Regions from separate parts of the Homo sapiens genome. Here region 2 is linked to region 1. The links come from fine-mapping of genetic effects on gene expression. A gene starts in region 1. The other region holds a variant in brackets. All regions are shown on one strand. Distances are between the middles of the regions. Region 1 holds the start of MPP2 (MAGUK p55 scaffold protein 2). Region 2 overlaps MPP2 (MAGUK p55 scaffold protein 2).

The links. PIP is the estimated chance that this variant, and not a neighbour inherited with it, causes the effect. A credible set is the group of variants that fine-mapping cannot tell apart.
Region 2: its variant is the best candidate, but not a certain one, in a credible set for the expression of MPP2 in esophagus muscle (GTEx, PIP 0.63).

Annotation. Positions count from the first base shown.
Region 1 is chr17:43,905,448-43,910,819 of GRCh38, forward strand. It overlaps MPP2 (MAGUK p55 scaffold protein 2), which reads right to left and starts at 2,089. Exons shown (of 13, transcript NM_005374.5): 1 at 2,027-2,089. RefSeq lists an enhancer at 2,099-2,248.
Region 2 is chr17:43,870,637-43,875,964 of GRCh38, forward strand. MPP2 (MAGUK p55 scaffold protein 2) reads right to left here. Exons shown (of 13, transcript NM_005374.5): 13 at 4,724-5,328. Among named protein-coding and RNA genes, the nearest start is that of CD300LG, 26 kb to the left of the region's middle. The variant C/A (reference allele first, on the strand shown) is at 2,806.

The DNA of each region.
Region 1 (5,372 bases):
TGGGCAGAACCAAGCATGGAGTCTACAGCCCCAGTTTCCATTCCAGGGCCTCCCCAGGCTAGGAGTGGCTCCCTCGTTCTCCCAGGAGAGGGCAGGGGGTTACCCCCCACCCTTCTTCCCTTTGCCTTCCTGGGCATGTGCTGCTGGATAAAACCCTAATTCCCAGTTGCCATGACAACAGGAGGCAGTGGCTCACAGCAGGGGTGGGGAGTGGGGGGAAGCATCTGGCAGTGCCCACTTTAGGACTGAATGCCTGCTGAGTCCTGGGGGTGGGGGAACCACGGCAACTCCACCTCCCCCCAAAAGAGGATTCTTCCCAGAGGACTAGTACCTGATTTCAATAAAACCCTCTCTGCTCCCATTCCCTTCTCAGGCCTGAGCTGGTCACCTGAGCTCAGGTGACAGAAATTACAAAAGTGAGGGGGATGGTTCCCTTTCCTCCCAGCTCTGCCGCTGAGGACATGGAATAAAGGTGCTTTCAGGGAGAGGAAGGGCACCCCTATTCAGGCTACACCCAGGCTGGAAGAAATGCCCAGGATCCACTGTGCTGGCCCGTGCCCCTGGTGCCAATCTCTACTCCTAGAGAGCAGGGAGGAGGGATCCCTTCCCTCCCCCTCCCAGGCCTTGATGACCTGGAGCCTTCTCCTGGCTGGCGCTGCTCTCCCTCACAGGGTCAGAGAAGGGACTCCAGAAGTCCTCCTTCCCTAGAGCGTGGAGGGCGGGAAAAGGCAGGGAGGATCCTGTATGAAATCCCTGCGCTCGGAAGTCTTGCCCAGCCTGCCTGGGTTTTCTCCCGGGGAATCGGTTCCCAGAGCATCGGCTGGCTTTGCTCCCCCACGCCCGTCCAAGCCTCTGAGAGGGCGGGGCCTGGCTGTGTCCACAGGAGAACGGCAGTGCCAGGCAAGCTAGCCTGGCTCCGTGCCAAGGTCCTGCACCCAGACATCTGGGAACCTGCACCTCGGCTTCCAAAAGCCTGGGCCCAGATGCCCTCTCAGCTCTGCCTCCGAGATATCCACATCACCCATAGTGTCCGCAGGCGAGCGGACCAGCAGTGAAAGGGAGAGGTTTCTTCCAACCTCCCACCCATCCCTCCATCCATACACATACAAAGAGGTGCGGAGAAGAAAGGTCTGACAAAGGCGCTTTGGAGAGCGAGAGGTCGCGGGGAGGTCTGGACAGAACTGAGGGCCAGAGGATGGGGTCGAAAGGCCAGGCGGACGTGCATGCTTGGACCATCAGATCACCCCTGCCCCAACGGACCCAGCCCTAACACCCTGGGCGCTAGGACCTGGGGGAGGGGGGCGTGTTGTGAGCCATCAAAGAAGGCTCTCTACGTGCGCGCCCGCCGGAGACCAGGGATGAGGTCACTAAATGACTGCCCCGGCCAACCCCCACCCCGTCTTTATCCGCACCGCCCCCCCCTTAATTGACCTAACTTTCTAACCCTAGCTCTTCGCTTCTGGCACCGGTCCCCTCCCAAGTCTCCAGACCCTAACCCTGGCTCCCGACCCGCCCCGCTACAGCTTGGGAAGCGGGAGAAGCAGCGCGCGCCCTTCTGCGGACCCCCTCCCAGGGAAGATTGTGGTGTTAGCTGCCTAGGGGGACCAGGGGGCCACCGGGACCCAGCGCAACCTCTGTCTCGCTCCCCAACCCCCGGAAGCGCTAACAGCACGGTTCTTACGTAATGCCGGGCTTCTAAGTACCCCCAACCCGCACAGCCCCCGGGGAGGCCGCGCAGATACCGGGGCCCCTCACAGCTCACCACCTTGGTGCCTGAAGCCACTTTGGAGCCCCTACCGCAGGGGCGGGGACCAGTGTCAATGGGCAGCGGGGCTTGGTTCTCCCAACCAGCACCCCAGAAAGAGGGCCCAGGGGCGGGGGCGGGTGGACAGGGAGGGAACGGGCCTGGGTGAAAGGGGCCTGTGGAGTTTAAACCCAGTGAATAGGGTCCTAAGTGCCGTGTCAGGACGAAAAGAAGGCGGAGGTCTTGGGATAGGAGCTGGCCCGGGGGCCGGGGGACGCCTACCTGCGCCCCGGGAAGCCCCTAGCTCCGGGCGGCTCCAGCGCAGCCGGGCGCTCAGCGTTTATTGCTTGTCAATCGCTAGCCCGGCTCTTAAAGCGGCAAGGCCTCTCCGCGAGGGGGCGGAGGTCCGGAGGAGAGGGGAGGTGAGGAGAACGCGGAGGCCGGCACAACTCGGAGGAAGTAGTCTTTCCCAGCAGCTGGTACGGGGGCAGCCAGGTAGTGGTTTGGGAGACACCGCACAGACCACGACGCCCTGCTGGAGTCCCACTGGGAAGGGTTAGGGAGGCAGGACTGGTACCAGTACCCGCTGGTGCCCCTCGGCTCCCAAGGATCCCTTAAAGGGGCGATGGTAAAAGTGCCTAATGAGACCGGCTTGATTACTCCGCCCACCCATCTTGGCTTAGACCGGCGTTCTAGTTCCAGGCGTGCCTCACTTTTCCTCGTTATCCTGCTTCCATATTGAGAAAAAGAATAGGAGGACTTCAGAGAGACTCCCAGGAAGCAGGATACCAGCCCCAGAAGGCCTCGGGATCAGGGGCAGCTTTTTAAGGACTCAGAGGGTGGATATCCGGATTCCAGACTTTCCAGAAATTTTGCAAAAAAGAGGAAATGTCTTCCTGAAAGGATTCGAGAGCCTCTTTTAGGTCTAGGTGAGGGAGGCCTGGTCCATTTTCCTGCCTATGGAATAAAGAAGTAACTGGCTAGCCTTCCTCAGAGTCCCAGCCCAAAAAGTAAATAAAGGGTTAAACCCACTGGCCCGCCTTCGCCCAGCCTCCGGCTCCACCCCACATCTGCTAGTAAAAGATGCTGGGCCTCCAAATACGGGAGGCTCTGTGCAGTGCGACTAGCATTTGGGGCCAGCTACGCTACTTCTCCGACCTCGGCGTTCAGCCACCCCGTCCAGTTGCCCTGAACAAAATGTGAGAGTCATCCCTTTTCCTTGCTAACTGGATTCCTAAGATCATAAATGGACTGCATCTTTGGCCGGGCGCGGTGGCTCACTCCCATAATCCCAACACTTTGGGAGTCGGAGGCGGGAGCATCGGTTGAGCCTAGGAGTTCGAGACTAGCCCAAGCAACATAGTGAAACCCCATCGCTACAAAAAATAAAATAAACAAAATTAGCTGGGCGTGGTAGCGCGCGCCTGTAGTCCCAGCTACTTGGGAAGCTGAGGCTGCAGTGAGCCGAGATTGCAACACCGCACTCCAGCCTGGGCAACAGAGTGAGACCCTGTCTCAAAAGAAACAAAAAGAAAAGAAATGGATTACATTCTGGAAACTTGCTTGGAAATCTCAGAAATGGGAATCTATCCCGAAAGCAGGGGACTGGTCCCTGGGTTCCAAGACTCAGCTCTCCCCTGAGTTCCAAGGGTATAAGTTTGGATATAGGAAAAAGCCACAGAGGCGGCCGAACTGCTGAAAACCACATTGTTTAGGTGACCCAGGCTTTTACTGAGAGAAGAAAGCCATCGAACCCAGATAGCTTTGACAGGAATTGCAGGCTTTGGTCTCTAAACAAAGAGGGTTCTTGGAGCGCATTGCTTGCAGCTCTTTCCTCTATCTGCAAGCTAGAAAATCCTTCTTCTTCTTCTTCTTTTTTATTTTTATTTTTTGAGACGGAGTTTCGCTCTTGTTGCCCAGGCTGGGGTGCAATGGCATGATCTCGGCTCGTCGCAACCTCTGCCTCCCGGGTTCAAGCAATTCTCCTGCCTCAGCTTCCCGAGTAGCTGGGATTACAGGTATGCGCCACCATGCCTGGCTAATTTTGTATTTTTAGTAGAGACAGGGTTTCTCCATGTTGGTCAGGCTGGTCTCGAACTCCTGACCTCAGGTGATCTGCCCACCTCAGCCTCCCAAAGTGCTGGGATTGCAGGCATGAGCCACTGCACCCGGCCTAGAAAATCCTTATAATTGAATTCAGGAAGAGTTCCCCTTTCCATTATAAAGGCTACCCTCCACTGTCACCTGTCCACCTCTGGGCTGGAAATCACTCAGCTATTTGTATTTTGGAAGAGGAAGGATCTTGAATCTCTACAAGATATTAATTACTTCTTAATCAAGCAATTATTACCTCCATAGCGACCCACATCAAATCTTCCATTCCATTTAGGATCCTCAGGACAGTCTGGGATCTCAGATTCTGGCCCACCTGGGGAGGTGGAGCCCAACTCATTATTCTTAGCGGCTGCCCCACTGCATTCGTCGGTCAACAAGTATCTCTCTAATAAAGGCCTTGCAGAATGCCAGCCTCTCACATCTGTTCAGGACCTTACAATTGACAAATTGTTTCATTCTCACAACAGCCTTGTGCAGTTACAGAATGAGAAGAAACATTTATTGATGCAGAATAGGATGCTCCTCTTCTGTGCCAGGCAAGGTACCACTTACTGTGATACTGAGATAAGGGCCCTAACCTCCTAGAGTTCACAGTCTGGGGTTGAAGTCGGAAAGGAGTGTGTTACATAGATACAAAAAGCGCTTCTTGGTAGCACAGCTGAATGCCATAATAAAGGTGCAGTGTGTCCTAAGCTGTTCCCCAAAGGAATAGAGCTGCTAATGGTTGGCAATGGAGTAGCTGGGAAGGGAAGCAGGTTTGAAGGTCGGCAATGCATCCCCTAGTAGTTAAGGGCTGCCCCCTACCTCAAGAGGGGAATGAGTCCTCCTTCTCTGAGGTTTGTAATTAGCTCTGCCTTCCTCCCTGCCTCAGCCTCAGAGGTCATAAAGGTGCAGGTAGTATATCTCCTTCCCCCAAAATCAAGGTATTCCTATGGTGGTGTTCAGCCCAGAGTTTTGGGAGTCAAGGCACAGAGAAAAATAAAACTCAAAAGTGTTACAAATTTCCAGCAGGTAAGGCTTTGCACTGAGTGATGGTGCACTTCCTATAATGACCAGCAGGGGCCACCAACAGCTATTCCCAGTTTATCTACACCCAGCCTCTGAGGTGCTTCGCCTCCACACCTGCGACTGGCCAGTGCCTAGTTCTGGAAACCTTATTTATGGACTATACTTAAAAAAAAAAAAAAAAAAAAAAAAAAAAACTTGGGCGAGGTGCCATGGCTCACACCTGTAATCCCAACACTTTGGAAGGCCGAGGTGGGCAGATCATGTGAGGTCGGGAGTTCAAGACCAGCCTGGCCAATATGATGAAACCCTGTCTCTACTAAAAATACAAAAATTAGCTGGGAGTGGTTCCGGGCGCCTGTAATCCCAGCTACTTGGGAGGCTGAGGCAGGAGAATCGCTTGAAGCCGGGAGGCAGAGGTTGCAGTGAGCCATGATTGCGCCACTGCACTCCAGCCTGGGCGACAGAGTGAGACTCCGTATTTAAAAAAAAAAAAATTAGAGCCTTC
Region 2 (5,328 bases), 35 kb before region 1:
CTGAAGGATTTGCCAAACATCGCCCTTGGGTGCTCTTTTGATGTCACCTATGGCCCCTGTTTCTGAGTACCTGGAAGCAATCCTAGTGTTACCACTGGGAGGGTCCATGACACTTTTACAGAAGATAAATCTGAAGCCCAGAGAGGTAGAGGGACCTGTTGGGGGCCACACAAGTTCCAGGTGGAGCTGAGTGAATTAGCCACAGCATGTCTGAGTCCTCGAGCCCCATGAATGCTCGCAGACACCTGGGTGCAGGCATTTTTTTTTTAATTTTAGATTTTTAGGGGGTACACATGCAGGTTTGTTACATAGGCATATTGTGTGATGCTGAGGTTTGGGTTTCTATTGAACCTGTCACCCAAATAGTGTACAGAGAACCCAATATGTCATCAATATGTAGTTTATCTTTTCTTTTCTTTTCTTTTGAGATGGAGTCTTGCTCTGTCCCCCAGGCTGGAGTGTAATGGCACGATCTTGGCTCACTGCAATCTCCACCTCCCGGGTTCAAGTGATTGTCCTGCCTCAGCCTCCCAAGTAGCTGGGATTACAGGTGCATGCCACCACACCTGGCTAATTTTTGTATTTTTAGTAGAGACGGGGTTTCACCATGTTGGCCAGGCTGGTCTTGAACTCCTGACCTCAGGTGATCTGCCCGCCTCGGCCTCACAAAGTGCTGGGATTATAGGCATGAGCCACTGTGCCCGGCCAATATGTCATTTTTCAACCCTTATCTCCCTCCTTCCTTCCCTCCCTCCCTCCTCTTATCATCCTCAGTGTCTATTGTTGCCATCTTTATGTCCATGTGTACCCAATGTTTGGCTCCCGCTTATAAGTGAGTACATATGGTATTCAATTTTCTGTTTCTATGTTAATTTGCTTAAGATAATGGCCTCCAGCTGTATTCATGTTACTGCAAAGGACATGTTTTTTTTTTTTGTTTTGTTTTTTTGAGACAGAGTCTCACTCTGTCGCCCAGGCTGGAGTGCAGTGGCGTGATCTTGGCTCACTGTAACCTCTGCCTCCCAGGTTGCAATACAAGCAATTCTCCTGCCTCAGCCTCCTGAGTAGCTGGGACTACAGGCACGCACCACCATGCCTGGCTAATTTTTGTATTTTTGCTAGACACAGGGTTTCACTATGTTGGCCAGCCTGGTCTCCAACTCCTGACCTCAGGTGATCCACCCGCCTTTGCCTCCCAAAGTGCTGGGAGTACAGGAGCAATTTCACTATTTTTATGGCTGCATTATATCCCATGGTGTATATGTACCATATTTTCTTTATCCAACCCACCACTGATGGACACCTAAGTTGATTCCATGTCTTTGCTATGGTGAATAGTGCTACGATAAGCATACAAGTGTGTTGGAGGCCAAAAGAATGAGGGTCGTGATCAACCCAGTATACCACTGGAGGCTATATGAGCAAACAGCAAACTGTTCTCATAATGCAGAATGTTGGCAAACTGACAAACTGCGTCTGCCACCCAGAAGGAATGCTGAGGGCAGTCACGCCCCAGGCGCAGTGTTTGTGATTATCTACAGGCACACCTGAAGCCTGTTAGCAATTATGTGAACCTGTGATAAATCAAGCAGCTGACCAATGGTTACCTGCTCTTCCCTACTCTTTCTACCCAATAAATATGGAGGGCTGTGGAAGCTTAGGGCCCTTGCTCACTAGAAGCAAGAAGCCCCCAACCCCTTCTTTAAAACAGATTCTTTTGTCTTAAGTTTTCATTTCTGCGTTCATCCTCTTTTGTTCAGTCCCATAGTAACTGTCACAAGTGGTGCCCAAACAGGGATGAACAGGGATAGGGACAGACAGGGACAGATAGAGACAAGCAGGGACTTGCAGGGACTCGTAGAGACTAGCAGAGACAGACAGGGACAGACAGGGACACGAACGAGGAGGGTCCGCTGGAGCAGAGAAAGTGAAACTGGCCAGACGAACGAGAAACCCCAGAACGAGTCTGCTGGCAGTGGATATAAGGTCAGTGCCCTAAAAAAGTACTGGGATATAAGGTCAGGTCCCTAAAGAGGTACTGGGAGCGGGAAGTTTCTGAATCAGGGTAACATGGGGCAGAATTTGTCCATTCTTTCTGTTTTTTCTGTTTGGGGTTTGGTCTGTACTGTCCTTTTGTCATTATTTCAAAATTTGAAAGAATTTTTTGCCCCACCCACAGCACCTATCAAGGGCGGTGAATAGGAGAGGGAGGGTGAAGATTGGCCTGTACCGTCTTCTTTTGTGGCTGCAGAAATACTAACTTTAACTTTGGCTTTGAGAATGCAAACGTGGATTGTAAGCATGCACTGGCACCTGTGAGATGTACAAGAAGCTTAGGAAATTTTCTCAGAGCTTGTCAAGATGTGGGAATTGAGCTTCATCGCTCTACAATGTTGGCTCAAGCAATGGCTAGTTTAGTAGTTGATAAACCTAAAAGGAGCCAAGGGTCAAACCCTAAAGTGGGAAAGTGTTATAATTGTGGAAAAATTGGACATTTCAAAAAAGAATGCCGTCAGATCTCTGGAAAGAAGGGATCTTATAATACAGTTCCCTCCCGCACAATAGAAAAAAACACCAGGACTTTGCCCTCCTTTGCAATAAAGGAAATGATTGGGCTAATCAATGCCATTCAAAATTTCATCAAAACAGCACCCCCCTGTGGGGAAATGAGAAGGGGGCCTGGATGTGGGCACCTCAAACAATGAGGGCATCCCCAGTCCAGCCCACAACTCCGTTTCAAGGGTGGGTTTCCGGAGGCACATTGATTCCCTCTCCCCAGGAACACCTGGAAGCACAGGATTGGGT[C/A]TCCCAGTCAAAGAATGTGTTACTTTAGTTGGAGGAGACAAATCCACGAAGATTCCCACTGGGATTTGTGGACCTTTGCCAACAGGATACATGGGATTAATTTTAGGCAAAAGCTGTCTTAACTTACAGGGCATTACTGTAGTCCCAGGAGTTGTTAATTTGGATTATGAAGGAGAAATTCAAGTAGTGGTAATGTTACAAGATCTTTGGGTTTTGAACTGGGAGAATATATTGCTCAACTGTTGCTTATCTCCTGCAAATTACACCCTTCTCCACGAAAGAAGAAACAAGGGAATCAAGGATTTGGAAGTACAACTCGGAGGGACATTTATCTATCACAACCAATAGCATCTAGTAGACCCACTTGTGCAGTGCAAATTAAAAGTTTTGTGGGCTTATGGATACGGGAGCAAGAGACTGGCCTCTGGCAGTAATGGATCTTGGAGATTTTTTTTTTTTACTATACCTTTACACGAGAAGGATAAGCCTCGATTTGTTTTCTGTGCCTTCTGTTGATTGGAGAAAGCCTGTTTCTCATTATCAATGGAAAGTTTTACCCCAAGGCATGCTCAGCAGTCCTACGTCATGTCAGCATTTTGTAGGAAAAGCATTAAGGAACCTCAGAATATGTTTCCCACTGCCTATAGATTTACTAACGTGGGGACGAGGGTATGCTTATGTTTTTATAGGAGATGGACAAACCATGTGGGTGCCCTCAAGGTGTGTGCAACCATGGAACAGGAGACTGGAGGGACCCATGGATCCCAACCATGGGCCTGGTTCCCCTGGTATGAGCCATGAGCCAGTTGAATCTGAGTGCAAAGACAGAGTGAGGACTGACCAGAGTCACACTGACATCAACCCCCATAACATGAGGACAGATTTTGTTCAATTAATGTAAAAACAAAAAGGGGGAGATGTTGGAGGCCGAAAGAATGAGGGTCATGATCAACTCAGTATACCACTGGAGGCTGTATGAGCAAACTGTTCTCATAATGCAGAATGCTGGCAAACTGACAAACTGCGTCTGCCACCCAGAAGGAATGCTGAGGGCAGTCACACCTCAGGCGCAGTGTTTGTGATTATCTACAGGCACACATGAAGCCTGTCAGCAATTATGTGAACCTGTGATAAATCAAGCAGCTGACCAAAGGTTACCTGCTCCTCCCTGCTCTTTCTACCCAATAAATATGGAGGGCTGTGGAAGCTCAGGGCCCTTGCTCACTAGAAGCAAAAGCAAGGACCCCTTCTTTAAAGCAGATTCTTTTGTCTTGTTTTCATTTCTGCATTTGTCCTCTTTTGTTCGGTCCTGTAGTAACTGTCACAAGTGGCGTACATCCTCCTTCATTCAGTCCCATAGTGACAGTCACACAAGTGCAGGTATCTTTTTGGTGGAACGATTTCTTCTCCTTTGGGTAGATGCCCAGTGATGGGATTGCTGGAATGAATGGTAGTTCTATGAGAACTCCCCAAACAGCTTTCCACGGGGGCTGAACTAATGTACGTTCCCACCAATAGTGTATAAGCACTCCCTCTTGTCTGCAACTTCACCAGCATCTCTTATTTTTTGACCTTTTAATAGCCATTCTGACTGGTGTGAGATGGTAACTCATGGTAGTTTTGGTTTGCATTTCTCTGATGATTAGTGACGTAAAGCACTTTTTCATACATTGTCACTTGTATGTCTTCTTTTGAGAAATGTCTGTTCATGTCCTTGGGTACAAGCACTTAGAAGGAGCATCTTCTGGGGATGGGGGAGTGTGCAGGGGCAAGACAGAGGAAAGGAAGACATCGCAGAAAACAAGACATGTTGCTCTGACTTCCATTCTAGTAGTCATCTGTGCTGTGCTCCCCAGCTCTCACTCTCTCCCAAAGCCATCCATCCAACCCCAACCAAAGAAAAGCAGAGCCAGAAGCCTTTGCTTTCACATTTAATCCAAGGAAAAAGAAAGAAAACCAATCAGTGAGAAAACTCAAGAATTGGATGGCTGAGGGAGGGAACAGAGGAAGCGCACTGGGGCTGGGACTGAATATGGACAGTGGATGGTAGGGTCCTCACTCTCTTGAGGTCCCTCAAATACAAGAGTCCACAATGGCAGGGAGGGAGAACAGAGTCATAGAGCTGTGGTGGGGGCACACACCTGTTCCAACCCAGCCCCAGCCCTGTTCCAGGTGAGCCAAGGACTGACAGCCTCTGCTAGGTACCTGGGAGGGCTGTGGAGTGAGGGCTCAGGCAGGGGAGGTAGGAGGCTGCTCAGAGAGGAAAGACCGAGAAGAGACAGGAGGGAAGGGCCCCAGGCCTGCCCCTTGAGCATCCCTAGCAGTGAAGGTGCCATGAAGGCCAGGTACCCAACCCATCTCCATCAGAGATGATGGTCATTTGGATCAAGGGGGCAGAAGCAGCTGCAACAACAGATCTTCCCCTGCCTCTACCCTCAAATCCCCCAGAGAAGGTAGGAAATGGCAAGTGACCCTATAGCCTCAGGTCAGCAAGAAAACACCCCATTTCCTTCCCACTCCCTT